Linked DNA regions of Homo sapiens: regions 2, 3, 4, 5, 6 and 7 are each reported to be linked to region 1. Evidence: microRNA targets listed by miRTarBase, many of them from high-throughput screens and not tested one by one. Region 1 holds a microRNA gene; each other region holds the end of a gene's coding sequence.
What was found. Region 1 holds the annotated microRNA hsa-miR-211-5p (UUCCCUUUGUCAUCCUUCGCCU, at 1,819-1,840, shown strand). A microRNA usually pairs through its seed, bases 2 to 8, with sites in the 3' UTR of a target mRNA and lowers its output. Matches are read on the target gene's strand: a 7mer-m8 pairs with bases 2 to 8, a 7mer-A1 pairs with bases 2 to 7 and ends in A, and an 8mer does both.

Region 2: the mRNA of FZD8 is a reported target of hsa-miR-211-5p. The part of its 3' UTR that is shown has no 7-base or 8-base seed match.
Region 3: the mRNA of CACHD1 is a reported target of hsa-miR-211-5p. Seed matches in the 3' UTR shown: 7mer-A1 at 2,489-2,495.
Region 4: the mRNA of SHOX2 is a reported target of hsa-miR-211-5p. Seed matches in the 3' UTR shown: 7mer-A1 at 1,329-1,335 and 8mer at 2,077-2,084.
Region 5: miRTarBase lists HLA-DRB5 as a target of hsa-miR-211-5p. Seed matches in the 3' UTR shown: 8mer at 1,007-1,014.
Region 6: the mRNA of SEZ6L is a reported target of hsa-miR-211-5p. Seed matches in the 3' UTR shown: 7mer-A1 at 2,940-2,946.
Region 7: the mRNA of DNAJB5 is a reported target of hsa-miR-211-5p. Seed matches in the 3' UTR shown: 7mer-A1 at 1,339-1,345 and 7mer-A1 at 1,577-1,583.

Annotation. Positions count from the first base shown.
Region 1 is chr15:31,062,824-31,066,934 of GRCh38, reverse strand. It overlaps MIR211 (microRNA 211), which reads left to right and starts at 1,794; the gene lies at 1,794-1,903. It overlaps TRPM1 (transient receptor potential cation channel subfamily M member 1), which reads left to right. Exons shown (of 28, transcript NM_001252024.2): 7 at 688-859; 8 at 3,643-3,817.
Region 2 is chr10:35,635,641-35,639,911 of GRCh38, reverse strand. It overlaps FZD8 (frizzled class receptor 8), which reads left to right. Exons shown (of 1, transcript NM_031866.3): 1 at 1-1,665. The coding sequence ends at 567. Among named protein-coding and RNA genes, the nearest start is that of MIR4683, 3.5 kb to the left of the region's middle. RefSeq lists enhancers at 247-1,108, 1,795-2,417, 1,598-3,458.
Region 3 is chr1:64,690,813-64,695,083 of GRCh38, reverse strand. CACHD1 (cache domain containing 1) reads right to left here. Exons shown (of 27, transcript NM_020925.4): 27 at 2,031-3,761. The coding sequence ends at 3,523. Among named protein-coding and RNA genes, the nearest start is that of RAVER2, 52 kb to the left of the region's middle.
Region 4 is chr3:158,094,691-158,098,923 of GRCh38, reverse strand. SHOX2 (SHOX homeobox 2) reads left to right here. Exons shown (of 5, transcript NM_001163678.2): 5 at 640-3,019. The coding sequence ends at 897. Among named protein-coding and RNA genes, the nearest start is that of SHOX2, 9.6 kb to the left of the region's middle. RefSeq lists an enhancer at 757-926.
Region 5 is chr6:32,514,372-32,518,371 of GRCh38, reverse strand. HLA-DRB5 (major histocompatibility complex, class II, DR beta 5) reads left to right here. Exons shown (of 6, transcript NM_002125.4): 5 at 295-318; 6 at 620-1,019. The coding sequence ends at 633. Among named protein-coding and RNA genes, the nearest start is that of HLA-DRB5, 14 kb to the left of the region's middle.
Region 6 is chr22:26,379,723-26,383,989 of GRCh38, reverse strand. SEZ6L (seizure related 6 homolog like) reads right to left here. Exons shown (of 17, transcript NM_021115.5): 17 at 394-3,724. The coding sequence ends at 3,695. Among named protein-coding and RNA genes, the nearest start is that of ASPHD2, 47 kb to the left of the region's middle.
Region 7 is chr9:34,996,467-35,000,737 of GRCh38, forward strand. DNAJB5 (DnaJ heat shock protein family (Hsp40) member B5) reads left to right here. Exons shown (of 5, transcript NM_001349723.3): 4 at 1-400; 5 at 560-1,962. The coding sequence ends at 793. Among named protein-coding and RNA genes, the nearest start is that of DNAJB5, 8.9 kb to the left of the region's middle.

The DNA of each region.
Region 1 (4,111 bases):
TGGTAACATCTTGCAAAACCATAATGCAAGATCACAACCCGGATACTGTCATTGATAAGGTCAAGGTGCAGAATGTTTCCATCAACACGAGGATCCCTCCTGTTGCCCTTTCATATACATATACCTCACTCCTTCCTACCCCCACCTCTTCCTTAACCCCTGGAAACAACTAATCTGCACCACCCCGCATTTCAAGAAGGTTCTGTAAATGGAATCATACAGTAATGTAACCTTTGGGGATTGGCTTTTTTTTCACTCCACATAGTTCTCTGAACACGCGTCCAGGTTGCCATATGTATTGGTCTTCATTCCTTTTTACTGCTGGCTGACATCCCATGATATGGAGGCACCAGTTTCTTTAACCATTTGTCTGTTGAGGAACAGTTTGGCTGTTACAAGTAAAGTAGCCATAAACATTCCAGTGCAGGATTTGAGGTTAACATAGGTTTTCATTTCTCTGTGATAAATGCCAGGGGTGCAATTGCTAGGTTGTCATTATCTAAAACAATTAACTTTCTTTCTATTTTAATGTAACAATTGGCAAAAATAAAACCTTCAAAAGGCAGGGTAGAGATGTGAGAATAAGTTTTAGTGCAGTCACTCCACACATATGTATTGTGCTTGCTTCCCTTGTTGGTCTTAACATCCAAGTCCTGCAGGTCTGATTTGCGCTGTGCACTTTGTCAGGTAACAAGAGTGTACCAGACCATGTCCAACCCTCTAAGTAAGCTCTCTGTGCTCAACAACTCCCACACCCACTTCATCCTGGCTGACAATGGCACCCTGGGCAAGTATGGCGCCGAGGTGAAGCTGCGAAGGCTGCTGGAAAAGCACATCTCCCTGCAGAAGATCAACACAAGTAAGTGCTGGCAAAGGCACGCAGTCCTCCTGGGCTGATGCCATCACAGTGGAAACAAGGCTGAGAAGGAGATTGATTGCCCAAGGGGATTAGAAGATTAACCTTGCTTCTTGTTAGGTCAACAGAAAATGACTCACCTAGATGTCTTACCTTAGCCACCTACCAAATCACATTCACTGGGCTACATGGGGATGCTTTGCCCCAGGTTCACAAGTTAGCACGAAATAACCCTCAGTGCTCGCCATGGTGATGGCCTTGCCCACCCTGTTGCCCAGTGGTTCTTGTTCCCTGTAATTAGTTGTTATTTTTTAAGTGTTTTAACAGGAAAACAATTTCTCAAAGATTTAGTAGGATTCTTTCTATTTGCTGATAAGTATTATGTGATTATTAAATATCTCTGTAATGCTGGGCCTTTCATGTAGACTAAGATGGCCAGGTGGGGACATATCTGGAGAGGGCTGCAGGAGCCATCTGCTCCTGAAGGGGCATCATCCTTGCTGGTCCTGAGGGGGAGCTGTCACTGTCAGACGAAAGCTGAGGTCGAACTAGAGAGAAAGACGCAAACCTCAACCAGAAGAAACAATGATAACAACTGGTTAGAATTACAATAACTGGTATAATCTCTTGGAGCATGTTTATACTCCAGTAATTCTTAACGTCAAACAATTGTTAAATGATCTGAAAGAGCAGTTTGTTTTTCCCATTACTGGCAAGATTTTTGTGGGAGACCATCTAGTCCTGGCGAATGGTCATTGGGAATCATCATGTATGGGACTGTGATGCTGCAGAGTGGGTAGAATGGGGATGGCCTACTAGGAAAAGTTGTAGATTTCCGAGAATCAGATCTCGAAGAATACATTGGTCGATGACTGAATGTTTTTTGTTCTCACATCTCTAATTTTTCTGGACTTGTAAGTTTTTACAACACCCCATTTCACCTGGCCATGTGACTTGTGGGCTTCCCTTTGTCATCCTTCGCCTAGGGCTCTGAGCAGGGCAGGGACAGCAAAGGGGTGCTCAGTTGTCACTTCCCACAGCACGGAGCTTCGAGGACTCCAGCCTAAGCCAAGAAGAACCTGTTCTACTCTGTTGCTCGAAAAGAAGGTGATTTGGCCACCATATTCCTAAAGATTGAAAATATCAATCCTTGCTTGGGTTGGAAATCTCAAAGGCGGAGTCCAGGATATCTTAGTTCATTTTTCCAATATCTCCTGGTCAGGGCTTTGCACAAAGCAGACCCTCAATGCATGTCTGCTGAAATGAACTTAGCTGTAATTACTCTGGTGGACACAGCAGAGTTATTCAACATATGTAAGAGTCCCTGACTGTAGAAACACCTCATGGAAGCAAATTAGAAACTCTGAAATGGCTCATTTGAAATTCTCCAATCTTCTCTTAACCAATGCTGGCAGATTTTTATCTGAAGCCCTTCAGAGCTGAGACCAACGATACTTCCACTTGCCTTTAGTTAATATCGATCAACTAATTCCCATCACAACTAATGGACAGCTGGTGAAATAGGCTCAGAGTGTGATCTGTCATGGCCAGTGTGGCATAAAATTAGGAAGTAGGCAAATGTGCCTCCACTCCCATTTCCTTCCCATTCCAGAATCCCAACTTCCTGGAATCTTCCTGCCACCTCTTGCTTCCCAGAGCCATGCCTGCAGGTTCTGCCACCAAAAGTTAGTTGGTACCCACTGTGTTCTTGAAGAGTCCTATTAACTGATAGAGACAGAGGGAGGACTCTGGGAACAGGTCATTAACTGATGGGCCACTAGTGGTCCAAGTGGCTGCGTCCAAGATCTGCACTTTATTCCAGCCACTGAAGACAGAAACGTCAACAAGAACAGTGTACCTCATTTGTATGCTACTTAACGTTTACAAAATTATTTGCTAGCCAAACACATATTCTGATATTTTTACAACTGCAGGAGTTAAAGGAAGCACTGTGATTGTTCACCTTTTACAAATGGCTGTCTAAGGCTCTTGGTGATTTGGTGATTGGCCCAGTGTCATAAGGGAGAAGCCAGGAATTGAACTGCAATTTCCCTGGCTGGTCCAGATCCCCTTTCATCATCTTATTCTTCAGGGACAGCCATCAGGGTGGGAATTTCAGACCATAGGCTAGGACAGCCAGGGGGATATTTTTCCAGCCAGGAATACCTTCCAATATTTCTCAGTGGTCACCTTGAAGTAGCCCCAACATCAGGTGGGTGGGTTATTCAGGAGTTTAACCATATGTGAGTCAGAAAGTTTCAGACTTTGAGGTCCTGGTTTTCCCAATGAGGCCATAATATGTGACAGAATGCAAGAATGATAACTGGGCTGGGCACAGTGGCTTACACCTGTAATCCTAGCACTTTGGGAGGCCAAGGCAGGTGGATCACTTGAGCCCAGGTGTTTGAGACCAGCCTGGGCAACATGGCAAGACTTCATCTCTACCAAAAATTAGCCAGGTGTGGTGGCATGTGCCCATAGTCCCAGCTACTCAGGAGGCTGAGGTGGGAGGATTGCCTGAGCTGAGAGGGAGGTTGAGGCTGCAGTGAGCCATGATCATGCCACTGCACTCCAGCTTGGGGGACAGAGTGTGATTCTGTCTCAAAAAAGAAAAAAGAAAAGAAAAGAAAAAGAAAATTGTTATCACATGCCTGAATTCCTTCCAGCCAGATAGAACATCCCCCAAGTCGTAATGTTTTTACTCTTCCCCATACTTCAGGAGTTAAAACGACTGGGTGGACAGTGCAGGGCACAGGTGGTATGGGCGAATGTGGTTTGTGTTGCAGGACTGGGGCAGGGCGTGCCCCTCGTGGGTCTCGTGGTGGAGGGGGGCCCTAACGTGGTGTCCATCGTCTTGGAATACCTGCAAGAAGAGCCTCCCATCCCTGTGGTGATTTGTGATGGCAGCGGACGTGCCTCGGACATCCTGTCCTTTGCGCACAAGTACTGTGAAGAAGGCGGGTAGGATTTCTGACGCGCGAGGAAGGGCGGGTTCGTAACTCCCTCTTTGTCGGGCCAAGGAGAAAATCTAAAGTGGTCTGCTTAGACATTCCAAACGTGTTTAAATCAGGAAGATTTGCTAGATCTCCTCTCCCATTTCCTCAGGTCAGCATCCAGGGGAACCATCAGAGGCAGGGTGTTCCTGATGGAATTCTCTCTCCCTCATTTCCAACTTCATTTGCCCTTAGAAAGTTTGCAACAAAGCTGGAATTTAGGACAAGTGAGAATACGATGTTTGACTATGGTTACTTTTTG
Region 2 (4,271 bases), not on the chromosome of region 1:
CTCTTCCGCATCCGCTCGGTCATCAAGCAACAGGACGGCCCCACCAAGACGCACAAGCTGGAGAAGCTGATGATCCGCCTGGGCCTGTTCACCGTGCTCTACACCGTGCCCGCCGCGGTGGTGGTCGCCTGCCTCTTCTACGAGCAGCACAACCGCCCGCGCTGGGAGGCCACGCACAACTGCCCGTGCCTGCGGGACCTGCAGCCCGACCAGGCACGCAGGCCCGACTACGCCGTCTTCATGCTCAAGTACTTCATGTGCCTAGTGGTGGGCATCACCTCGGGCGTGTGGGTCTGGTCCGGCAAGACGCTGGAGTCCTGGCGCTCCCTGTGCACCCGCTGCTGCTGGGCCAGCAAGGGCGCCGCGGTGGGCGGGGGCGCGGGCGCCACGGCCGCGGGGGGTGGCGGCGGGCCGGGGGGCGGCGGCGGCGGGGGACCCGGCGGCGGCGGGGGGCCGGGCGGCGGCGGGGGCTCCCTCTACAGCGACGTCAGCACTGGCCTGACGTGGCGGTCGGGCACGGCGAGCTCCGTGTCTTATCCAAAGCAGATGCCATTGTCCCAGGTCTGAGCGGAGGGGAGGGGGCGCCCAGGAGGGGTGGGGAGGGGGGCGAGGAGAGCCAAGTGCAGCGAAGGGACACTTGATGGGCTGAGGTTCCCACCCCTTCACAGTGTTGATTGCTATTAGCATGATAATGAACTCTTAATGGTATCCATTAGCTGGGACTTAAATGACTCACTTAGAACAAAGTACCTGGCATTGAAGCCTCCCAGACCCAGCCCCTTTTCCTCCATTGATGTGCGGGGAGCTCCTCCCGCCACGCGTTAATTTCTGTTGGCTGAGGAGGGTGGACTCTGCGGCGTTTCCAGAACCCGAGATTTGGAGCCCTCCCTGGCTGCACTTGGCTGGGTTTGCAGTCAGATACACAGATTTCACCTGGGAGAACCTCTTTTTCTCCCTCGACTCTTCCTACGTAAACTCCCACCCCTGACTTACCCTGGAGGAGGGGTGACCGCCACCTGATGGGATTGCACGGTTTGGGTATTCTTAATGACCAGGCAAATGCCTTAAGTAAACAAACAAGAAATGTCTTAATTATACACCCCACGTAAATACGGGTTTCTTACATTAGAGGATGTATTTATATAATTATTTGTTAAATTGTAAAAAAAAAAGTGTAAAATATGTATATATCCAAAGATATAGTGTGTACATTTTTTTGTAAAAAGTTTAGAGGCTTACCCCTGTAAGAACAGATATAAGTATTCTATTTTGTCAATAAAATGACTTTTGATAAATGATTTAACCATTGCCCTCTCCCCCGCCTCTTCTGAGCTGTCACCTTTAAAGTGCTTGCTAAGGACGCATGGGGAAAATGGACATTTTCTGGCTTGTCATTCTGTACACTGACCTTAGGCATGGAGAAAATTACTTGTTAAACTCTAGTTCTTAAGTTGTTAGCCAAGTAAATATCATTGTTGAACTGAAATCAAAATTGAGTTTTTGCACCTTCCCCAAAGACGGTGTTTTTCATGGGAGCTCTTTTCTGATCCATGGATAACAACTCTCACTTTAGTGGATGTAAATGGAACTTCTGCAAGGCAGTAATTCCCCTTAGGCCTTGTTATTTATCCTGCATGGTATCACTAAAGGTTTCAAAACCCTGCATTCATTTCTGGAGTCCGTGATTTTGAAAGCACCTGGTGTTCCAGGGAGGGAACGCATTGCTGAGGTGTAGAGGTTAATGTTTTAAACCATAGCTCACCCTTTACAGTAGAAGTCACTTGACAATCTGGTAGGGGAGCAGGCGCTCTTCAATGGATTAAACTAACGGGTTAACATCTTAATAACCTTCAGTGCTTGTGTATACCAAATGTGCTGCTTTTCCTAGAGAAAAAGCTATTGTTCCTCTGTCAAGACTAAGCTAATTTATTTGAGCAGAAGGCTGTTGAATTAGCAGAAGAATGCTTCGGCAATTGTTGAACTTTTTACCTGTCTGCCCAGTGGCTCAGCACATCATTCCTTTAAGAGGAGCTAAATGAATAGGGTTAATCTGTAGGGAACTTGGTCTTTTGAGTTTGAAAAACTTTGATCTTTTCTCCTCTGCAAATGTGCTGTATAGTCTGAAGTTTCTTTCCCTGCTGCCTATCTCCTCTTAGTGCAGACCAATTGGCCACCGCGGAGCCTTAAAGTTCTTCCATTAAAGGGATGTGGGACTTTTACTTTAAAAAGGAGAGAGAGCGCGAGAGAGGAAGACTTGTAACAGTTAGTGAAGACCGGAGGCACAAGTGCTCAGCCTTTTAAACAGCTTTTCCCGGCATTGTTAGCCAGCCTGCAGGCAGCTAGGCATGGGTTGAAGCTTTATAGAAAAGGGCTCTGAATGCCCCACAGGTGGTCTGCGCACATAATCCCCCAATTTAAAGCGTTTTCCTTTGCTGGACAATTGCATTACAAAACTCCCTTCTTTTTCGCTCCTAATTGAACCAATGAACTATTATAAACTACAAGTTTTTCTTTAAAAAAATTGCCGGTGCCTAAATTCTATTGACTAAATTCTAGCAAGTTTTCTAACTGAACCTTTTAAGGCACCGGAAGTAAAAGCTGCTTCAGCAGACGTTTCTGTTTCGCGGATATTTTTATTCCTTATGCTTGTTATTTTCTGACAGATTAGCAATAATTTAAAAGTAATTGGTAAGATTGTGTGTTAATACTGAAAAGATAGCCCCAGGTCCCTTATTAACCTGTCAATCAAGATAAGAAATGGGCAGCTACCCTGCTAATGATGGGGCATCAATCATTGTGGGATGGGAGGGGCTTTGTTCTGCACATCCTGCTAAAATGTTTGTTCTCCTTACTTTACCTAATAGGAATCTTTAGTGGCTAAAAAAAATTTTAATAGAGTGGACGCTACTTTCTTGGCCGATCTTTCTCATGTAAGAGGCTTCGCATAGGATCTCCATAGTAGTAACATTTTGCAGATCCTTTTCAGAGTAAGTCTCGGTGTTAATTAAGTTATGCAATTAGAACCCCTGCTTTAGCTATCATGCCAATCTTATTTTTTAAAGCCAGAGACACTGTAAAAGTGTTCACCTCTCCAGTAGTTTTACTCATTAAAGAATTATTTTGTAACTTAGGTACCTATCAGTGGCCTACATCTAACCCACGTGTTGACTCATGTATAGTATACATATGCCAGCCATAAACTTTTTATATTCAGTTATAAAGTAGAATTTTGAGAGCAGATCCCAGAGTCTTTACCACATATGAAGGATGGAGAGAAAGCTACAAGACACAAGTTAGCATGTTGGCTTTCTCATGTAGCAGTATTGTCATTATTGACGCATTTTCAACTATATAGCACAGTGGGAAAATGTCCAGCTTTGAAGCTTTTTACCTTATTCTTCAATATATCATTATAAAATGCTATATTCGATAACTCAAGATGTATGTGTGTTTAAGCGAACTTATTTGACAAAAAACCCAATTTAAATTCTGAGGACAGTTCTCAATAAAAAGACCTGCATCTGTCATCACTAGAGACTGATTTTAGAGATGGTATTAAGACATAAGTGCTGGTTCTTTGCCTTTAAAGCTAAAACTTGAGTTGCATATTTGCCAGTACTCAGATGGTATCTACTAAGGGAACAAAACCCCAAAATTGATTTTAGGGTGGAAGAAAGAAACGAGTCTCTATCTGGCCAATTGCATTAGACAAATGAACACCTCTGTGTGCTATACAGGTGTGTCTTTAATTACATAAAACAAGTGTTAGTTTTTCAAAATCTTGTCAAATTGGGAGAGGGGTTGATGTGGTTGCTGTGTGGCTAGAAGATCAAGTCTAACATGATTAAAACCATTACTAAAGCCAAAGCTCATTAAAATTGCTTGTGGGAGAAGTTATGTGAAACACTTTCTATTTGCTTTATAATAAATGCAATTTGAAAGTACCATGAAACAGAAGGGAAAAAAGTTGATAAGAAAGTTTAAGGAGTAAACCATGGCACATTACAGTTTCTTAACCTGCACTGACCGCATTGCTGGTGCCTGTAATACTTCAGAGTTTGGGCAAAGAGAGTGAGATTGTCTTGCCAAAAGAAAACCAGGAGCAGTTGCAGAGCACGGGATGCAATTTAAAGTGTAGGTGCAAACGTTCTGTTGAGACATAAAAAGCAAATCAGTGCAAGTGTCTATCCGCTTTCCACATTTGATACTATACTGCCATCTGGTGGTAGTACGGGGTCCCAGAACCAGGAAGTTAGGGAGGTTCCTTCATT
Region 3 (4,271 bases), not on the chromosome of region 1:
TATAGTTCCTAAGTAATAGATACGGAAACTTAAAATTCTTTTTAACTAAAACATTAGAAAAAAATTTCTGAATATGGCATTCTATCTCAGCCAGGAAAATCACTACTCCTGTCTTCTGAAACAGACCAAAAGGAACATAGATGAGACCTGGCTGGTATGGGTTTTTGTTTTGTTTTGTTGTTTCATTTTTAGAAAGGGTCTCACTTTGTTGCCCAGGCTGGAGTGCAGTGGCGTGATCTCAGCTCACTGCAGCCTGGACCTCCTGGACTCAAGCAATCCTCCCTTGAGAGTAGCTGGGACTACAGGCATGTGTCACCATGCTTGGCTAATTTTTGTATTTTTAGTAGAGACCGGGTTACACCATACTGGTCAGGTCAAACTCCTGACCAAGTGATCCACCCGCTTCAGCCTTCCAAAATGCTGGGATTACAGGTGTGAGACATGGCACCTGGATCCGGCTGGCATGTTTTAAGAATATAATTATTTTGCCAGATATAAATTTTTAAAAATGTGATCATTAGGATAGTCCATCGCCATGGGGAAATGAAATTGTGGTATTTCAGGACTTCTTTCCACATAACAGTCACTCTGAGAGGCAAAACAAGTTCATATTGCCTAAGTTTTTCAAATATATTATCAATGAGGTTTAGTTGAGTATTCAATCAACTGGAGGAAAAAACATACCCTACAGTATAGTTTACAAAATTTCTAAAATAAACCTATCTGAAATGCAGATGAACTGTATATACCATGAGGACTAGCATGAGCCTGAGCCACGTTTTCCTTGGGCTACAATAGGACATTTTTTTCCTAGCTATATAAAGTGACCTGGAATTTCCTTAGCTTTGATACTTACCAACATTGATAAGCAATGTTGGTTACTGGCAGCAGGAGGCTTTGGTGAATGAAAAGATATTGGTAGGACCTCCTTCAGGATCTCAGGGAAGACTCATGTTTAACAAACACTGGTAACTGGCACCATGATAAAAAGTCTCTGAAAACATATTTTTCCTTTTAAACAATGACAACAAATGTTTAAATGACATTATATGTAACCCTTGGATTAGATAAAAGATAATTATAGAGGATCAAAACTTCAGCCTATATGTCATATTTCACAGGATCTTTAAAACTCAGCAATGTTTTGGTTTAGGTATAAACATTCAATTACTTTCCCCTCAAGTTCGGAATAGGAAAAACTCTTACCACAAAAGATACAAAATGGGCCGGGTGCAGTGGCTCACGCCTGTAATCTTAGCACTTTGGGATGCCAAGGCGGATGATCATTTGAGGTCAGGAGGTCGAGACCAGCATGGCCAACACGGTGAAACCCAGTCTCTATTAAAAATACAAAAATTAGCTGAGCCTGGTGGCAAGTACCTATAATCGCAGCTACTCAGGAGGCTGAGGCAGGAGAATCACTTGAACCCAGGAGGCAGAGGTTGCAGTGAGCTGAGAGATCATGCCGCTGCACTCCAGCCTGGGTGACACAGCAAGATTCCATCTCAAAAACGAAAACAAACAAAAAAACCCAAAAGATACAAAATGTATTCTGTTATTGTGTTTCTATAGGGGTACCTATTTCATTTTTAAGCTCTAAGTTTTGTGATTCTTTTCTTGAAAGCACCAAGTTTCCACTGCACTTCTCCCTCCTCAATCAATTTCCTAACACAGAGTTTCTCAACCTTAGGAAACAAACTAGTATCCCATGAAGAAGTTTAATTTTCTGGGAAGGCAGGAAACTCATTTAATCCTTCTAGCAGTTAGAGAAGAACCATTTATTATTAGTGACATGGATATAGATGCTCAGGAAGGGATAGCTATGTTCTATACATTTTTATCCCATTATATTGTTAAGTTGTTTGCATATTTGATCTAGATGGTCAAGAAGCCCTAGAAGTTGACTGTAGCATTGAAAGGAGGTCTATTTTCAGTTTGGCAACTGACCTGGCTAGGTTACAAAATGAATGTAACTTGCCTTGAGGCACAAGGAGTGGTACATTAACAAATCACTGTAGCCACTAAAATGGTCCATTGCATACGGTTTATTTCACTAGATTGCAATTTTATACACAGTATGAAGGGGTTTCCTGATAGCACATATATAGTTTACTTTCTGTACTGCTGAAGAACCAATTGTTTTTTACATTGTATCATAATACCCTATCATTAAAACATTATTCAGTGAATTTTTTCCAACTACATATAAACGGAGATTTACCACACACATTCTTTACCATGGTGCAAGAATGCCTTTATAACATATTTGAATCACAAAATGTGAGTCTAAAATACATCACTGTAATTAAAACACTACTTTAAAGTTACAATGCCCCATGTTATAGTAGCCAGATTTGATTAATCCCTGTATAAATCACAAAGCAATTTGGTGGATAATGTCTTGGCTAACTGGCAGCAGCTTTTAACCGTGATATTAAAAAAAAAATTCTTTAATTAAGAACCAGACTTTCACAATTTAGAAAACTTCTTCCCTTATATGTCAATATTCTCAGTCAAAATGGGATATTTAAAAATTTGTAGTCTCTAAAACAAGGAAAATAAATCCAACCCTCCCTTAGCTGAAAGGATGCGGTTCTAACATTAGGTTTCGTAGAAACCTAAGAATAGCATTGTACGAGGAGTGGAAACAAGTCATAAGAAACATAACATTTCTTTTAAAACCTCTTAAATTCCTCTGCCCCTCCCCATCTCTGTCAAACACAGAGAAAGAATACTGCATTACAAACAAAGATGTGTTTCCGTGAAATGATGTAAACAAGTCAGAGAGAAAGATTTCTTCATTTTCCTATTTTGTGGAGTGGGGCAGTGGGATATCAGTTAAATAAGAAATAGAGCTCCTTAATCAAAGAACCACTTCATTACACACAAAACAGCTCGGGGCAACTGCTGAAAACTTCTCCTGTGTTTCCTTTCCTTTTCCCCAAAGTTTGAGAATGTTTGAAAGTTCAATAAATAGTAGAAAAATAATCCTTTACTTAGAAATTCTGAGATGCATCGTTTAGAGCATAACATGAGTTCCATACAGCAACTGTGGTATCCAGGTACCGCTAAGAAACAAAGCGAAATCTTCAATGCACACATTTGTATCTGCATGTGCCACATTCCAGTCTCTGGGTGAGCAGATTTTTCTCTCTTCCAGTTAAGGAGAGCTGAATGCTTCTGGCTCTTTGGAACATTCCTCTGGCTCAGCTTCACTTGCAGGTTCCGTCTCTGTGTTTGGAGGTTCGCCTTCTGTTACCTTCCATTAGTGTTATGGCAGGTCTGTTCATCAGGCTTATTTCCCCTCCATTTCAGAACCAGCCTCACATCTTCACAAATGTGACTGTGTTGTTGTTTCTCTCGTTTTTAACCATGTCGACAGGCAGGAAATGACTCAAACAACTCTGCACAAAGCACAAACACAAGGGAGGTCTCTTGCTGTGGGTTTTAAGCCGGTTCTTTTTCTTTCCAGAACATTCTGTAGCTCCCAGATCTCATCTTGGCGTGGAGGTGAGGAGATTGTTAGCATTCTGCATCGACAGTGTGTACCGTGACGGCCGCCTGTAAGTGGTGGCTATGATGAAGTGTAGGGTGGTGTGACCGGTAGTGGTGGAACTTGTGACTTAGTAGGGCAGCAGTCTGAGGGGGGGTATCCAGGTCTAAGTCCTCATCATGGTTTCCCACATCGACCCCGGCTGACAAGGGGTCATTGTTGCATGGAGGATTTTCACTGTCCTCCTGTGGGCTCATGGTGCTGTAACCTAGAAAAAGAACAAAACAAACACACAGCTGAGAGCTTCAAGACGCAGACAGAAGATTTCACCTACAATTTCTAGGGCACTGGGAGGTATTCCTGTCTTTGCAATACATAGGTGCAAACACTGGCAGACTGTCAGCAGATGCTAAAGTAATTTATTTTTAAAGAGATTTAGTGATAACTCTTTTTTTCCCTTAAAAAACAATGACACAATAAATACATAACCACTTCAGACAGCTGAGAAAGTACAGAGGAGAAAAAAAAAATAAACAAGAACCCTTATCCCAAATCCCCAAACCAGCAACACAAAAATGAAAATCACACTACATCCCATCATCCATGGCGAGCCACCACTGGGGACCTATCTTTCTACACTTTTACCTATGATAAAGATAATCTTTTTTATTAAAGAAATCCAAAAAATGGACAGCTTCAAGAAGAAGATCTGAACAGGATTCAGATCAACTGGGGCTGGTGCGGAAATCTGGGCTTCCGCCTGAATGCCTGAATGTGA
Region 4 (4,233 bases), not on the chromosome of region 1:
ACTCAAAAGGTAATCTTTGGGCCAGCAGCAACAACACCGTCTGGGAGATTGTTAGAAATTCAGAATCTCAGGCCCCAACCTAGACCTTGCGAATCAGAATCTGAATTTTAACGAGATCCCTGGGTAATTGTTATGGCAATAAAGGTTAGAAGTACCGACTCACAATTGTGCCTATTGTGGTGAAGATGGAGTAACTTCCCTGAATGACATTAAAAAGTTGCGTAGTTTGCTTGTTGATACTCCGTTGTTTTGGTAGTGGGGTAAGAGATGCATGGCAGCATCAAGAGAAGAGGGTAAGGGTCCTCACCCGCAGTCTTTCCAATATACCATTTCAGCCCAGTTCCCAGGGGAGACGGCCACATTCCTGCAGAAGGGGGTTCCCGGGGTCCGGGGAAATAAGCCTACCCTAAGCGAGTTTCGGAGACCCAGGGGACACTGGAGTATCCATGTGGAACCCCAGATTCAGCAACAGGCTGAGAAGGTCACTGTCGGAACAAGATGCACAGCCAAATGCCCTCTCCCCGTGCCCAAACACAACCCAACTCTCTCTCTGGCCAAGCTGGACGCCGTTAATGCTCTGTTTCTATTCTGTTGTCACCCTAGGATAGTCATTGCAACGTGACGCCCTTGTCCTTTCAGGTTCAGGCGCAGCTGCAGCTGGACAGCGCTGTGGCGCACGCGCACCACCACCTGCATCCGCACCTGGCCGCGCACGCGCCCTACATGATGTTCCCAGCACCGCCCTTCGGACTGCCGCTCGCCACGCTGGCCGCGGATTCGGCTTCCGCCGCCTCGGTAGTGGCGGCCGCAGCAGCCGCCAAGACCACCAGCAAGAACTCCAGCATCGCCGATCTCAGACTGAAAGCCAAAAAGCACGCCGCAGCCCTGGGTCTGTGACGCCAACGCCAGCACCAATGTCGCGCCTGTCCCGCGGCACTCAGCCTGCACGCCCTCCGCGCCCCGCTGCTTCTCCGTTACCCCTTTGAGACCTCGGGAGCCGGCCCTCTTCCCGCCTCACTGACCATCCCTCGTCCCCTATCGCATCTTGGACTCGGAAAGCCAGACTCCACGCAGGACCAGGGATCTCACGAGGCACGCAGGCTCCGTGGCTCCTGCCCGTTTTCCTACTCGAGGGCCTAGAATTGGGTTTTGTAGGAGCGGGTTTGGGGGAGTCTGGAGAGAGACTGGACAGGGGAGTGCTGGAACCGCGGAGTTTGGCTCACCGCAAAGCTGCAACGATGGACTCTTGCATAGAAAAAAAAATCTTGTTAACAATGAAAAAATGAGCAAACAAAAAAATCGAAAGACAAACGGGAGAGAAAAAGAGGAAGGGAACTTATTTCTTAACTGCTATTTGGCAGAAGCTGAAATTGGAGAACCAAGGAGCAAAAACAAATTTTAAAATTAAAGTATTTTATACATTTAAAAATATGGAAAAACAACCCAGACGATTCTCGAGAGACTGGGGGGAGTTACCAACTTAAATGTGTGTTTTTAAAAATGCGCTAAGAAGGCAAAGCAGAAAGAAGAGGTATACTTATTTAAAAAACTAAGATGAAAAAAGTGCGCAGCTGGGAAGTTCACAGGTTTTGAAACTGACCTTTTTCTGCGAAGTTCACGTTAACACGAGAAATTTGATGAGAGAGGCGGGCCTCCTTTTACGTTGAATCAGATGCTTTGAGTTTAAACCCACCATGTATGGAAGAGCAAGAAAAGAGAAAATATTAAAACGAGGAGAGAGAAAAATAATATTAACACAAAAAAATGCCACAGACAATGATTTCTCTGAGAAATTATTATGGCAAAACTGTCTGGACTGCTGACAGTAAATTCCGGTTTGCATGTTACTTGTATTCCATTGATGGTGTGTCTCCTCCCACCCCCTTATCTCCCATGCACTCACTCCATTTTCATCTTCACTATGAAAAACAATACCAAAAGTATCTGGAAATTGATATATATATATCCATATATATATATCATATATTTGCCATATATATATATATATATATATATATATATATATATATATATTTGCCCTGTCTTTGATCCTGGGGAACAAAAGAAAAAAGTCAGAAAGGGAAAAAATTACACTCATTGTCCTAAGAAGACAGAGGTGGGCAGAATATGTGGGGAAAGGAAAAAGAAAACAAGACCACCAAATGAAATAATGAAGGTACAGCGCCTCGCTGTGCCAGACACAGTAGGCGCTCAATCAGTATTAGTTCCCACCATTCCCCTTTTCTTGTGTTCCTTCTTGTTGGTTTCCTGAAGTCCTATTTGAAGACAGTGGTTTATTTCCCCCTCTCTATCCCGTCAAATTCACCTTAAATAACACCCAGCTAGATACAGGCACTAGGTTTGTGTAAGATATGTTGATACACACGAACAAAGTTTATTTTGACTATAATGTGTGGACTGACTTTCAACATTTGCATTTTATCTCACAAAGGTGTATCTATTCAAGTAACCTTTTTTTTTTGTTTGTTTGTTTCTTTTTTGTTTTTTTTTTTCTTTTGGTTGTTTGTTTCAATTCATGTAGCTATTTAAACTGGGATACCTTGGACTAAGCCAGTCTGTATCCCAATTCGCTAGCAAGCCTAAGTTTGTGGGGTTTTGTTTTTGTTTTTGTTTTACCTTCTAATTTACAAGAAAGAGGAAAAGCTCTTCTAACTGAACTTTGGTATGCGGTTGAGCTTTGTAACTATTTGTTCTCCATGAAAACAAAATTATTTATATTTGACATATTTTTTTCTAGTGTATTAAGTTATTTTAAACAAAAGATGTTATCTCATGACGTGTTGTCAGTACAAAATGTGTCGCCTCCAATTCTGTTAAACCTTTTAAATAAGTGCCAAGTTATTAATTGAAGACACTTTGCGATCAATTGAATGAAAATATCGTTTCATTTGATGGGGTTCGAGTCATCTTTGTTCCTGTTACTATTAAAATATCCGGGATAGTCTTTCCCTTTTGATTAATGCGTATCACTCTCTCGAATATACCAACTTGGAAAAGCGCTTGCCTCTGCTCTTACGTGCCGCAGTCAAGGGGCAGTAAGAAGGGTGGCTCTGTGGCTGTCGTTAGCGCTGAGCGCATTTCCGCCGGCCCCCTCCATTTTATCCACCCAGCATAGAAACAGGGTTATACCAAATTAATGAAAGAACAGATAAGAAGTAAAATAACATAGGATAGAGTAACTTCCTTCCCCAAGATGGACTCTCGTTATTCGTTTTGCTATAATTCCAGTCTTTATCTGGGGACACTTTTGGGAGGAAGGAAGGAGGGATCCTGCGGAGCGAAATCAACCTGGGTTTGGTATGGCATAATCGACAATCAGTCCCAGTTCGTTGACCCTCTCTGGAGCGGGGCAGGTGCTGACTTCGGAGCGGGAAAAGAGCCGCAAAGGCGGGCAGGCCAGGGCACTGTGGAGGGAGGATTCCCCATCTGACACTCCTGTTTAGGGTTGGCTGAAGCAGCTTCTTCATTGGTTAAATTTAGAAGGTGGAAGCCAGAATCGGGTTTAGGAAAAGCCTGGCCTTGAAAATAATGAGGAGCTCTCTCTCCCCATGTCGTGGCCCCCTTCTGGAAGAAATCCCACTAGTAAAGCCCAAAGGTGCTGCCTGTGTGGGGATAGTTGGAGACTTTGAAGACTCGGCCCTGACCATGTCCAAGGCAGGAACTTTCCTTCCCGCGCGGGCTCTTGTGATGACGGGACCTTCCGCAAAGACTGAAAGAGTCCTGAGCGTCCCCTGGGACCCCCCACCCTCGTGCTGGAGGGTGCGTAAAACCCCTGCCAAAGCCCCACATCCTCCAGCAGTGTTCCCCACCACCCCCACTTGGCCCTCTCCCAGGTCTTAGCTCGTATTCAAAGCTGTTCCTCAGCATAGACGTGGGCGATAGGTTTCTTTCTTTTAACTTTCAAAGACCACTGAACAGGATTTGGGCCGTATTCAGTGCGCAGGCCTTGCGGGTCTCCTGGTTGATGAACGTCGGTAGTTTTTAATAATAAACATCTGCCTGCGGGCATGGTACGCCCTGAAGCAGCCAGGCCATCCGCCGTGGTCCTGTGGCCTCCAGCGAGCTCCAGTCGGCGCCGGGGCCGGGGGTCCTAACAGGCAGGCTCCAAGCTCCAAACCCTAATCCTAACCCAGATCCCAACACGGGTTCGGACCCTGGAGACCCTGGAGCAGGGGAGATGGTGGCTCCCTCTCGGGGCCAGTCTGCCCCAAG
Region 5 (4,000 bases), not on the chromosome of region 1:
CTTGTGGCCTGCAGAGATAAGAGAAAGGTTAACTAGTTAAGGGTCCTTTGGTTTGAAATCCTGGAGCAAATTAAGGAAGAGCCACTAAGGCTAATGCAATTACACTGGATCCTGTGACAGACATGTCATGCTTCATGGGTCACATGGTCTGTTTCTGCTCCTCTCTGCCCTGGTTGGTGTGGGTTGTGGTGTTAGAGAAATCTCAGGTGGGAGATCTGGGACTAGGACATTGTGTTGGGAGAATAGATTTGCTTCCATACCTTTTAAGTGTATATCTTTTCCTCTTTTTCCCAGGGCACTCTGGACTTCACCCAACAGGTAATACCTTTTAATCCTCTTTTAGAAACAGATTCAGTTTTCCTAGAATGATGGCAGAGGTGATAAGGCATGAGACAGAAATAGCAGGAAAGACTTTGGATCCAAATTCCTGATCAGGCAATTTATACCAAAACTCCTCCTCTCCACTTAGGCCTGTGCTCTGCAGGAGTATTGGTTCAGGGAGACTTAGGAACTTGTTTTTCTTCTTCCTGCAGTGCTCTCATCTGAGTCCTTGAAAGAGAGGAAAAGAAGCTGTTAGTGGAACCAGGTCTGAAAACAACACTTTCCTCTCTCTCTGCAGGACTCGTGAGCTGAAGTGCAGATGACCACATTCAAGGGGGAACCTTCTGCCCCAGCTTTGCATGATGAAAAGCTTTCCTGCTTGGCTCTTATTCTTCCACAAGAGAGGACTTTCTCAGGCCCTGGTTGCTACCGGTTCAGCAACTCTGCAGAAAATGTCCATCCTTGTGGCTTCCTCAGCTCCTGCCCTTGGCCTGAAGTCCCAGCATTGATGGCAGTGCCTCATCTTCAACTTTAGTGCTCCCCTTTACCTAACCCTACGGCCTCCCATGCATCTGTACTCCCCCTGTGTGCCACAAATGCACTACGTTATTAAATTTTTCTGAAGCCCAGAGTTAAAAATCATCTGTCCACCTGGCTCCAAAGACAAAAAATAAAAAGAAAAGAAAAAGGGAAGATTATTTCCTAATAGCATAATGGTTTTTATATGTATTTCATAAGTATGTGAGGTAATGCACATATTAAATAGCTTGATTTAGTCATTCCACACTATAGGCATATATCAGAACTTCATGCTGTACAACATAAATATACTATACAATTTTTACTTGTCAATAAAAGTAAACCTAACATTTAAAAAGGCAATGCATAAAAATTGAGAACAGATTATAACAACTGAAACAACTTGGCCAACATGAGATGAGAAACCAGCTAGCAAGTCAATCAGAACTCTTCCTTAACCTATTCTAAATACTGCGTATCCATAACTGTAAATTGCATATAATTTTTCATTCCAGAAACTTCAATAATACAATATTATCCAAGGACTTGTACAGATTTCAGAGAATGACAAATTTAGAAAATGGAGGGTTCTCCATTGTGTTTTGAGAGTCAGTATCAAATATGTCAAATCTAAACGGTACATAATCAATGCAGAAGCCTATTTCAAAGTAATAATCATTTGAACATAATTTCTCTACTGTCAGAGACAATTATTTTACTTTCAATCAAATTCAATGTTTATGCATATTTTATTTTTAGCTATATTGCATGTTACTTGTACATATATAGTAGGTATGTACAAGTACATAGAAATCCTGTAAGAATATAAATCCTATAGGAATATAATAAGCTGATAATTATGTCTGATCTGTTTGATTCCAGAGTTGCAATAAAATAGGCTTTCTTCCCTAAGTTGAGGAAATGATTTGTCTCATTTTATATGAGACTTGTGGTGTGGAATTATAAAGAAGAACGAAAATGTGTGGGATGAATATTTCTTTTCTTTTCTTTTTTTTTTTTTTTTGAGACAAAGTCTTACTCTTGTCCCCCAGGCTGGAGTGCAGTGGCGCCATCTCGGCTCACTGCAACCTCCACCTCCCGGGTTCAAGCGATTCTCCTGCCTCAGCCTCCCGAGTAGCTGGGATTACAGGCGCCTGCCACCAAGCCTGGCTAATTTTTGTATTTTTAGTAGAGATGGGGTTTCACCATTTTGGCCAGGCTGGTCTTGAATTCCTGACCTCAGGTGATCCACCCGCCTTGGCCTCCCAAAATGCTGGGATTACAGGCTTGAGCCACCGCGCCCGGCCAAGATGAGTATTCCAATGAAAATGCCTTCTGCTGCTAATAGCAGGAAATCCCATCTAGCAGGCTTTATTTTTTTTTAACCCATGATCTCACATAGCCGTTAGATCCAATGCTGGTTGTCTCCAGGATTGCTCAACTCAGCTGGCCAGTGGCACCTCCAGCGATCCTGAACTTCATCGCTCATCTCTCTTAATACACAGCACGTCAGCTTTCCTGCGATGGTCGGAGGACCCCTGCAGCAGCTTTAGGTTTCTTATTCTTTCACAGCAACTCCCAGAGGTAGGAAAAGGATACTCCTTTCTCCTGTGTGCCTTTATAAGGAGCAACTAAACTGTTTCCAGAGTGTTCCCAGTACCCACTTTCTCACACATTGGAATGACCGTGGGATCACATGGGCTCAGACAAGCCTGGATTCAACATTTGTAGAGTGGGCCTGACACACATGGGAAGAAAAGGAGCAAAATCATACATTTTTAAAAGTAAAGAAATGGTGGCTAGAGTAGGAGAGATTGATTTCAGGGTAGGGAAATGATAGACTGTGGTACCATTGGGTTGTTAGTATTTGTAGTTAAATTCCACATTAAGGCCTATAGATTGCTGATAGGCATCCTCAATTCAGGGTTTTGGGTCGTTTTATAGATATATATATATATACACACACACATACACACACACACACGGAATATATATATATATATATATGTGGAATATCTATATATGGAATATATATATACATGGAATATCTATATATGGAATATATATATACATGGAATATCTATATATATGGAATATATACATGGAATATCTATATATGGAATATATATAGAATATATATGGAATATATATATAGAAATATATATATAGAGAGAGAGAGTATGAAATGTCAGCCGTTAACTCAATTACAATAAAACCAAAAAGCAAGCAAAAAGGATTGTTTTTAGAATTCAAGTATGCTGACATGTTATTTTATGAGGTAAATTCATTTTCCAGGGAAATTTTTGAAAAAAAGTAGAGTAAGGAATGACTAGCTCTGTAAGATGGTAAAACATACTATACATTTATTTTTAAAAATGCATTTTTTTTTTTTGAGACGGAGTCTCACTCTGTCCCCAGGCTAGAGTGCAGTGTCACAATCTCGGCTCACTGCAACCTCTGCCTCCCGGGTTCAAGCAATTCTCCTGCCTCAGCCTCCCAAGTAGCTGGGACTACAGGCACATGCCACCACGCCCAGCTAAGTTTTGTATTTATAGTAGAGACGGGGTTTCACCATGCTGGCCAGGATGGTCTCAATCTCTTGACCTCGTGATCCAACCGCCTCGGCCTCTCAAAGGGCTGGGATTACAGGTGTGAGCCTAAAAATGCATTGTTACTGATTCTCTTTTTCATTAAATATGCTAGTAAAACAAAGTCTAGAATTAGAAACAGAAAGAGTTGATATTTAGTTTCAGTTTTTGGTAAGCTGTATTCCAAACTCATTTTTTTCACTGAATGGATCCTGGTTGAATAAAAATTGAAACATAAAAAGAAAATATAAAATTAACAAGACATGTTATTTCTAATACTATCATCATCATTATAATTATGTTTGAAGACAGACTTTCTAAACCCTTATGTGTTGCTGGTGGGAGTGTATGATTTTACAAATACCTGGAAATTTGGCAGTTTCTTAAAAAGTTTAACATATGTTCGCCATATGACCCCCCAATTTCACTCCTTGGAATCTATGTAAGAGACATAAAAACATATGTCCTCACAAAGATATGTGTTCAAGTGTTCAGAACAGGCTTTGCCTTAGTTGGCCCAAACTGAAAACAATCCAAATGTCCTGCAACTAGTAAATGGATAAACTACATCC
Region 6 (4,267 bases), not on the chromosome of region 1:
CTGTGTGAAGACACAGCAAAAAGGTCATCTATAAGCCAGGAAGAGAGCTCTCACCAGGAACTGAATTGGCTGGTACCCTGATCTTGGACTTCTCAGCCTCTAGAACTTTGAGAAACAGGTTTCTGTTGTTTAATTCATCTAGTCTGTGGTATTTTCTTATGACAGGCTGAGCTAAGAGAGGGAGGATGGTGGAACATTGGAAGATGGCAGTGCCGTCAAACCCATCTTGTCCCAAACATCCCTTGAAGGTCCCAGAACCATTCCAGAGTGGGATGTCCTGTCTTAGCATTCAAAGTATCTGTAGGTGTTACCCCAACCCAATCCCCAGAAACTGGAAACATTCCACTTGGTGCCATCCTGAAGTGTCTGTAACAAAAATTCTACACACTTGAGTCTTTTTCATCTGTTTTATTAGCATCAATATATACAAAGTGGAAAATGACTTAATTTCATTATTCTAGCTTAGAAAGTTTGTTTTGCTTTTTATTTTGTTTGGCGATAAAATGGAAATGAAAATTTCCCAGGAGAATGCCTACCTTTGGGGGTGCTGAACAACTCAAATAATATCTGACCTCAAATGACTCGTCATGCCTAGTCAAGGACATAGGAAGATCATGCCCTTCGGATTCACTCGAAGGGCATTTTTGCCTGAGGCCCGTGCCTCAGCCTAAAGCTACCCACATATTTGCCAAATCACTACTTGTTATACAACCCTCCTGATTATGCAGATGCTTTGCTTCCTTCTGGGCTGTTTGGCAGTCTTCAAAGCTATCAGCCTGAGGTTCTGTAGGCTCTCCAAGGGGTGAGCTTCAAAGGATCATAGTTAAAGCACATCTATGAAACTAAGTAAGAATGGCCATCAGGTAGCAATCAGAATACTTATGTTAGCTAAATAATTCTACAAAAAAAAAAAAAAAAAAGCAAAAAGCTGAGCTCCAAGCTAAAGAGGGTTGAGTGTGTGCATTTTTAAAGCACAGGGTGGTAGCTGACAGATACAGCTTATATGAATTAGCATGTAATACACACCATCACATGCATTCTCTGAAGCTCACAATCTCTGTAAACGTATTTCCCCACTGTTTTAAAAACAAAGAGTGGCTTGTAGGAAGGCTCAGTCCATTCTCGAGTTTCTCAAGAGTGTATCCTATTCAAAAATATTTAATCCCAATGGGTTTTAATATTGATCTTATAAAAACAGACGTACATGAGCTGTAATGAGATGCCTTGCACATTTTTGGCACTATTTTTTTTTACCTTTACGTATTACAAATACACATTCAGATATTTTAAAAAGAAAAATAGACACCAACCTGTCTTTTCAATCACACTGTACATTGTTGAACTCGTATGATCTGTCTCTAGGCTAAAACAAACTTTTAAAACACGGTTACGGGTGTGGTACTACTAAGACAGAACTGAGACACTGGTCTTCTGAAAAAAACAACAATGACAACAACAACAAAAAAACAAAAAACACAACGCCTTTTCTATCTTTCCAATAGTCAATAAGAACATCTGGGGTGTGGCCTGGCTAGTTTTGGGGATAGGGTTAGAATAAAGATTTATATTTTGTCAGTCTTTATAAAAGGCAAATGTTTAGTTTTCACATAACCATAACACGTTGTAAAATCAAATATTATTCATAGAGTTCTTCATTCCAGGTGACCCAGGGTTAGGGTTAGAATAAGCATCAAATAAAATGGATTGAGTTCTGCCTTTTAAGGAAAGGTTACATTATTTGTGTTGTTATCTTTCTCCAAACATGACATTGTCCACTAATGGCCTAGAACACTTCTCTGGTTCTTGCATTAAATGGGGCTTTGGGTCCTGGAAAGCAGCCTTTAGCTATTTCTTGCCATGGACCACACACTCATGCCTTCAGGAGTATATGTGCAAGATTCTTTTCTGGCAGAAGGAAAATATTCTGGTCTTAGACCCCCAAGATTGAAGTCTGAGTTCCTGCTGTCAAGGAGGGTACATGTGTGCCTAAAATCAACTTTCCCTATCTTGCTTAAGATGTTTCCAATGTAACCACCAAAACATAGACTCCCTGCTATTCTCCCTATGGCCAGAAAGGTCTTTTCTTGTTTGAAAACCAGCAGACTTGAAACAATTCCAGAGAGAATGGGAGGGCACCAAAGAGGGTTCCAAATGCCACTGTGCCCGTCTGTCTGTCCAAGCCATTGACTGTCACCACCATGTCACCGGTCCCAGGAAGGTGAATCTGCTTCACACATAGTATTTCTTCCATGCACCCGCACCCTCCACCTTCTCTTTATACCTGTATTTAGAAAAGAATCTTCCCAAGAGTTACACACTCACCGGTTTCACTGGGTTGGGGGAAAACAGACCCTGATAAAATAAGAGGAATGCCCGTGTGACTAGATGTGGGGCTATGGAATCCTTTCTGAATGAAATTCCTCTCTCTGTCTTCATTGATGTTCAGATCAGATGATACAGGATTCCACTGGATGGTCTGCTGTGATTTAAAATCCCCTGCCCCTGTTCTCTGCACCTCCTCAGTCAGCATTCACACCACCCTCCAACATCCAGACAGCTTTGGAGAATAGAAAAATAGTTTCTTCTCATGGGACCCTCCCGCCCCCTGAAATACTTGATGGCAAGTATATTCTGAAGATGACACCTTTTAGAGAATCAGTGCACTTGAGTCTCCTCTATTTTGAGGGCTGAGATATTCCAGAACCCCAGGAGAAACCAGAGCTCACCCCTGCATTTCCAAACATGGCACCTCCTTTTTCCCATCACAAATCCTTGTCACTGTATGAGTGGGGCCGCTGGTGCCTCCCAAGCCTGTGTGTTTATTACCACAGCTTGAGAGTGGCTTGCTGAACATGGTGATCGATTCTGGCACTTGTAGCATAAATTACACGCTCTTTCATCATTGAAAGAGTGTCAAAGAAAAGAACATTTTAACCCAATTCCCTTACCCAATGATCCCCCTCACCCAATTCTTCATTGGAACTCTCAAATCTCTCATTTGTCTCTGAAAAATTGCCTTTGGTCGTTTATCACCTTTCTAGAAAGAAAACGTTTTCTTGTTTTGTCACTGTCCAGCGAGGCCAGAGTGGTAAAAGACAATGTTTATATAACACCTTTGCTACCTTCAGAAGAACCGTGAGAGGGAGGGGCTGTGGAAAAACCTTTCAGAAGCTGGCAAAATGGGAAGAGAGGACACAGAATTTGTTTAGGAGCACAGCTCTCCAAATGGGTTTAAGTACCCATGCTAAATTCCAACCCAAACTAAGCCAACAAGAAATACCCTTTCCAACCTAATCTTGGGACTTAGATTTGTACTGAAAACATCATGGGCATGGTTCCCAAAGATGCATGCAATTCAATGCAGCCTTAGCATGGCATTGCTGATGGGAGAAACTCCATCTGCTGTTTTGTGTTTTTGCTGCCGCGGTTTGCCATTTTGCAAGTCTTCCACCTGCCTTCAGAATTGAGGCTGTAACATGAATTTGGCTGAGGCCGCGAAACATCCAAACCCACACCTATTTCACTTTTAAATATAATAAATACAGGGAAGAAAACAGTAAACCTTTGATAAAGAGTCTAAACAAAAGACAGTCGACATTCTGGGGTTTCAATCAAGTGCCACATGGTCTCTGGATGAATGTCTCGAGGAGATTGTGGTTGAGTTCACAAGTCCCCTTCTCAAGTGTAGCTCTCTTTAGATAGAAACCTCATACTCTCTGGTTTCCTGCAAGAGAGAGAAGCACGGATTTGTCAAACGCTTGTGTGGTAGAGTGATATACATAGGGGGATGCAGTTCTTTGCACCTCTGTATGTCCATGCCCTTGGTCGTGACTTTTCAGTGCCCTCCCACTCTGACCCTGATTTGCTTTTGCCAATGGGTTATAAGGAAATGGCGTACAACAGCTGCTTGAAACATGCTTGTGTGTTTCTGCTCACATCCTGTCTATCTGTCATCACCAAGAACAGGGCATGCCCTGGTAGGCTTTAGTCTCTTCAGGAAAATGAAGGACACACAGAGCAGAGCTGAGTCACCCATCCATCAACCAGCCAATGCCAGGATTACCATCCAGCTGAAATAAGCCTAAAACGCTGTCCCACAGACTGATGAGCAAATGAATGCTTGTTGCATTAAGCCATTGAGTTCAGAGATCTTTGTTACTCAGCATTACTATAGTTCTAGGTCACTGATACACTCTACTAATAAGTATTCATTCATGTCTAGTCTCTAAAATTCTCCTTTATTTCAGTCTGACCTTTTCCCATGATT
Region 7 (4,271 bases), not on the chromosome of region 1:
TGGCGCTTTCGGCCGTTTTGGCTTCAATGGGCTGAGTAGGGGTCCAAGGCGAGCCCCAGAACCACTGTACCCTCGGCGCAAGGTGCAGGACCCCCCAGTGGTGCACGAGCTGCGGGTGTCCCTGGAGGAGATCTACCATGGCTCCACCAAGCGCATGAAGATCACAAGGCGTCGCCTCAACCCTGATGGGCGAACTGTGCGCACCGAGGACAAGATCCTGCACATAGTCATCAAGCGTGGCTGGAAGGAAGGCACCAAGATCACCTTCCCCAAAGAAGGCGACGCCACACCTGACAACATCCCTGCTGACATCGTCTTTGTGCTCAAAGACAAGCCCCATGCACACTTCCGCCGAGATGGCACCAACGTGCTCTACAGTGCCCTGATCAGCCTCAAGGAGGTGGGGCCTAGTCAGGCTGTGTGTGTGTGCTGGGGAGATGGTGGGGACATTCCCTCTCTTCCCGCCAGCTGGCACATTCTTTCCCCACCTCAGTCTATTTCCTTCCTTCCCACTCACCTTACCCCACCTTTTCCTCACTTTCTGCTTCGTCTTTCCCAGGCGCTGTGTGGCTGCACTGTGAACATTCCCACTATCGACGGCCGAGTGATCCCTTTGCCCTGCAATGATGTCATCAAGCCAGGCACCGTGAAGAGACTCCGTGGGGAGGGCCTTCCCTTCCCCAAAGTGCCAACTCAGCGAGGAGACCTCATTGTTGAGTTCAAAGTTCGCTTCCCAGACAGATTAACACCACAGACAAGACAGATCCTTAAGCAGCACCTACCCTGTTCCTAGGCTCTGCCCCAGCCAGTCCAGAGCCTACCACAGCAATACCCCCAACACTCACTCCACTCAATGTGCACCCAGCTTGATGTCCACTGGACACTGGCAACTTTTTCTAAAATGCAAAAAAAAGCCACTGGTTTTCAGGAAAATGTTCCTGTCCCTGACCCCTTTTAGAGCTGGGCTGCCTGGGGGGAGTGGGAGGGAGGTGGGGAGAGCTAGCCCAGGCCAGGGGTCAATGTTCATGTCACTAGCTTTCAATCCAGTTTCCACTGCAGTGGCTGGAGAGTGACCTGAGTGCTACTTGAAGATATGTAGAGATTCCTTATCCATGCCTGTACATAGCATGTCCTCCTCCCCTCAGCTTTGCTAATACCAGTCCCCTCCCTTCCCTTTGGCTTCCTGCTGTTGGGGGTGGAAAAGACTAGAAAGGACATTGCTTTCTCAGCCCCACCCCCAGGTCCACAGTGTCCAAGGTAATGGCACACATATTCATGCACAAGAAGCACTCACCTAGAGCTGTCTGTGCCTCTCTGGGAGAAAGGAGAGAGGATAAGAAGGGAAAGTTCACAACCTGTGAACAGGGACTTGAGCACGAGACACTTTTCATCTGGAGCAGGGGGGTGAGCTCCTCAGCAGCCTCCGTAACAGCTGCCCTGCCTACACCTGCAGAGCTGGAGGTTCTGTCCTCCCTGCTGCTCTCAGGAGTGTTCAAGGGTGGAGGGCAGGGAATGGGGCCTGAGGTATTAAGGCTAAGAGGTGGGGGACAGGGCCCATCTACCAGCCTTCATCAGGAAGGGAAAGGGCTTTGGGGTCAGGTGGCAGCTATTCCCCACCAAGAGATTCAGGGTCACAGGTTTTTCCCCACACCTCTGAACTCAGGGCCTAGCCACCCCCAAACTTCCAAATCCCACTTTTGTGATATGTGAAGCTACTCATTTCTTACCCTTGGAGGCTGTGTGGGGAATTTCCAGCCCTTTTATGCCTGTGTGATCCCACCCCACCCCCATAGTTGTATAAAGGTCATAGTGAAGAAGCTGGGGGAAGACTGCTTCAGCCAGATCCTGGGGTGGGGTCTTTAGGTTTTCTCACTTTGACAACCCCCGAATGTTTTTATAGTAGTTTTTTTGTATTTTTTTGTAATGACAGTATTATGTAAAAAATAAAGTATTTTAAAAATATGGCATCTGAGCAGGAGCAACAAACCTGGGATGGGGGTGGCTGAGGAGGGCCACTGTCATCCTCCCTCCCGGGCTCTGGTCACCTTTGAGAAGCCCAAGCAGGCCCTCAGTATAAGCTGAAGCTGACCTCTGCCTTCCTCGAAGCCTCCTGGGATTTCTAAAACTTATACTTCAAACACAGCACAGACAGAAAGTACCACTCAGCTATTAGAAGAAACATCTATTTGGGAAGGAAAAATATCCCTGCTCATGAGAGACAGAGACCATTGTCTTCAGATGTGCTAGCATGAAAACAGATTTTCTCTTCTTGTCTAAATTTTCTCTGAGTCAGACAAATTTTCCTTCTAGGAGAAAATTTTTTTCTAGGAGGGGGTGGAGAACTTTTTTTTTTTTTTTTTTTTTTTGACACGGAGTCTTGCTCTGTCGCCCAGGCTGGAGTGCAGTGATGCGATCTTGGTTCACTGCAGCCTCTGTCTCCTAGGTTCAAGCGACTCTCCTGCCTCAGCCTCCGAGTAGCTGGGATTACCGGCATGCACCACCACACCCGGCTAATTTTTGTATTTTTGGTAGAGACAGGGTTTCACCATGTTGCCCAGGCTGGTCTCAAACTCTTGACCTCAAGTGATCCGCCTGCCTTGGCCTCCCAAAGTGCTGGGATTACAAACATGAGCCACTGCTCCTGGCGAGGCTGAAGGACTTTCTGGCTGACTAGAAGAGCTACCCCCAAGTGTTTGGGCCCGGAGTGAGGAGAGTAGCACTCTTGTGCAGGATATTGATTTCACGGAGGATGGTGAGCGAGAAACCACTATCTGGGGGGGGATATCTGTGGTGACGAGGATTTATTTGACTGTAATGTGCTATGTACGATGAACGACTGAATGTACGATGAAAAGTACTGGTCGATATTCCTGTGGGAAGGTATGTTCTTTGGAAGTATGGAGTTGATGTATTATAATTAAGGTTTTATGGTTCTGGCTTATAAGCATGTTCTATGAACAATAGCTGTGAAAAGTGCTTTCATATGTGCTATGTACAGTTAAACACTTATAGTACTATATAATATTCATGGTGGCTAGCAGTAAAAGACAGAGCCTGGACATTGGAGAGGGTAGCCAGAGGTACCTGGCCTCCTTGGCCCACGCTGGTGAGGCCTGGCTATGGACACAGGCTCCCTGAGAAGCACTGAACACAGCTGCAAATCCTCAAATCTCAGTTATCTAGGGATGTCTGTCCTGGCCTCTGACCTGCCTGTGTCTACAGAGACAACTCTGGCCCTCAGGACCTGAGTGGTGGCTGCATGAGGGGGCACTTGTCCCTTTCCTGCGGTCTGGGTAGAAGGAGCCCTATAGTTGAAGAAATGCCCATCTGCGGGCTCTGCCTAGCCCTGGACATCCTCCTGGGGCTGACTTTGAGCATGAATCCCACATCTTCTCCAGGATCAGGCCCATGACAGTCATGCCCTCCTGAGTGCCAGTGTCCCCAGTACTATCCAGACAGCACTGCCTTTAGCTGGGCCAGGCTTAAGCTGACACTAATTGGCTTTTTTCCCCACAATAAAGACACTGAAAAAAACCTCCTCATCCTTTCACCTGAGGTACTTTTGTACCCCGTTCGAAAGGAGAAAATGTGCAGAAACCAGGGGGTCTTGCTTACAAGGGTATCTGCTAATCCCCTGGCCTGAGCAGGGAGATGCCCGCACCCTACATCCCCTACTCAATGCTCTCCTCCTTTGGGGCTCCTAGGGTAGCCTCTCTCTTGACTTGTGGCTAAATTCTTGTCCAGGATTTTTCCTGAGGCCTGAAGATTTGGGATTCTGGTCTGCTGGGCCAAACTGCTCCCTTTGGCCTCTGTGTAGACACACAAGACCTGGGAAATTATCATGTCCTGCTGAGCACACTCTGGGGATAGGATTTTTTTTTTTTTAGACAGAGTTCACTCTTGTTGCCCAGACTGGAGTGCAATGGCATGATCTCGGCTCATCGCAACCTCCGCCTCCCAGGTTCAAGCGATTCTCTGGCCTCAGCCTCCTAAGTAGCTGGGATTATAGGCGCCCACCATCACACCTGGCTAATTTTTGTATTTTTTAGTAGAGACGGGTTTTCACCATGTTGGCCAGGCTGGTCTTGAACTCCTGACCTCAGGTGACCCTTGGCCTCCCAAAGTGCTGGGATTACAGATGTGAGCCACCGCGCCCAGCCGGGAATAGGATTTTGAGAGCCTAGAAGCAAGGCTATCTGAGGCAAGGGACACTTCAATGAGAAAGTCCTAAGGCTGACTGCAACCTTACCTGCAATTTGAACCTTACCCTT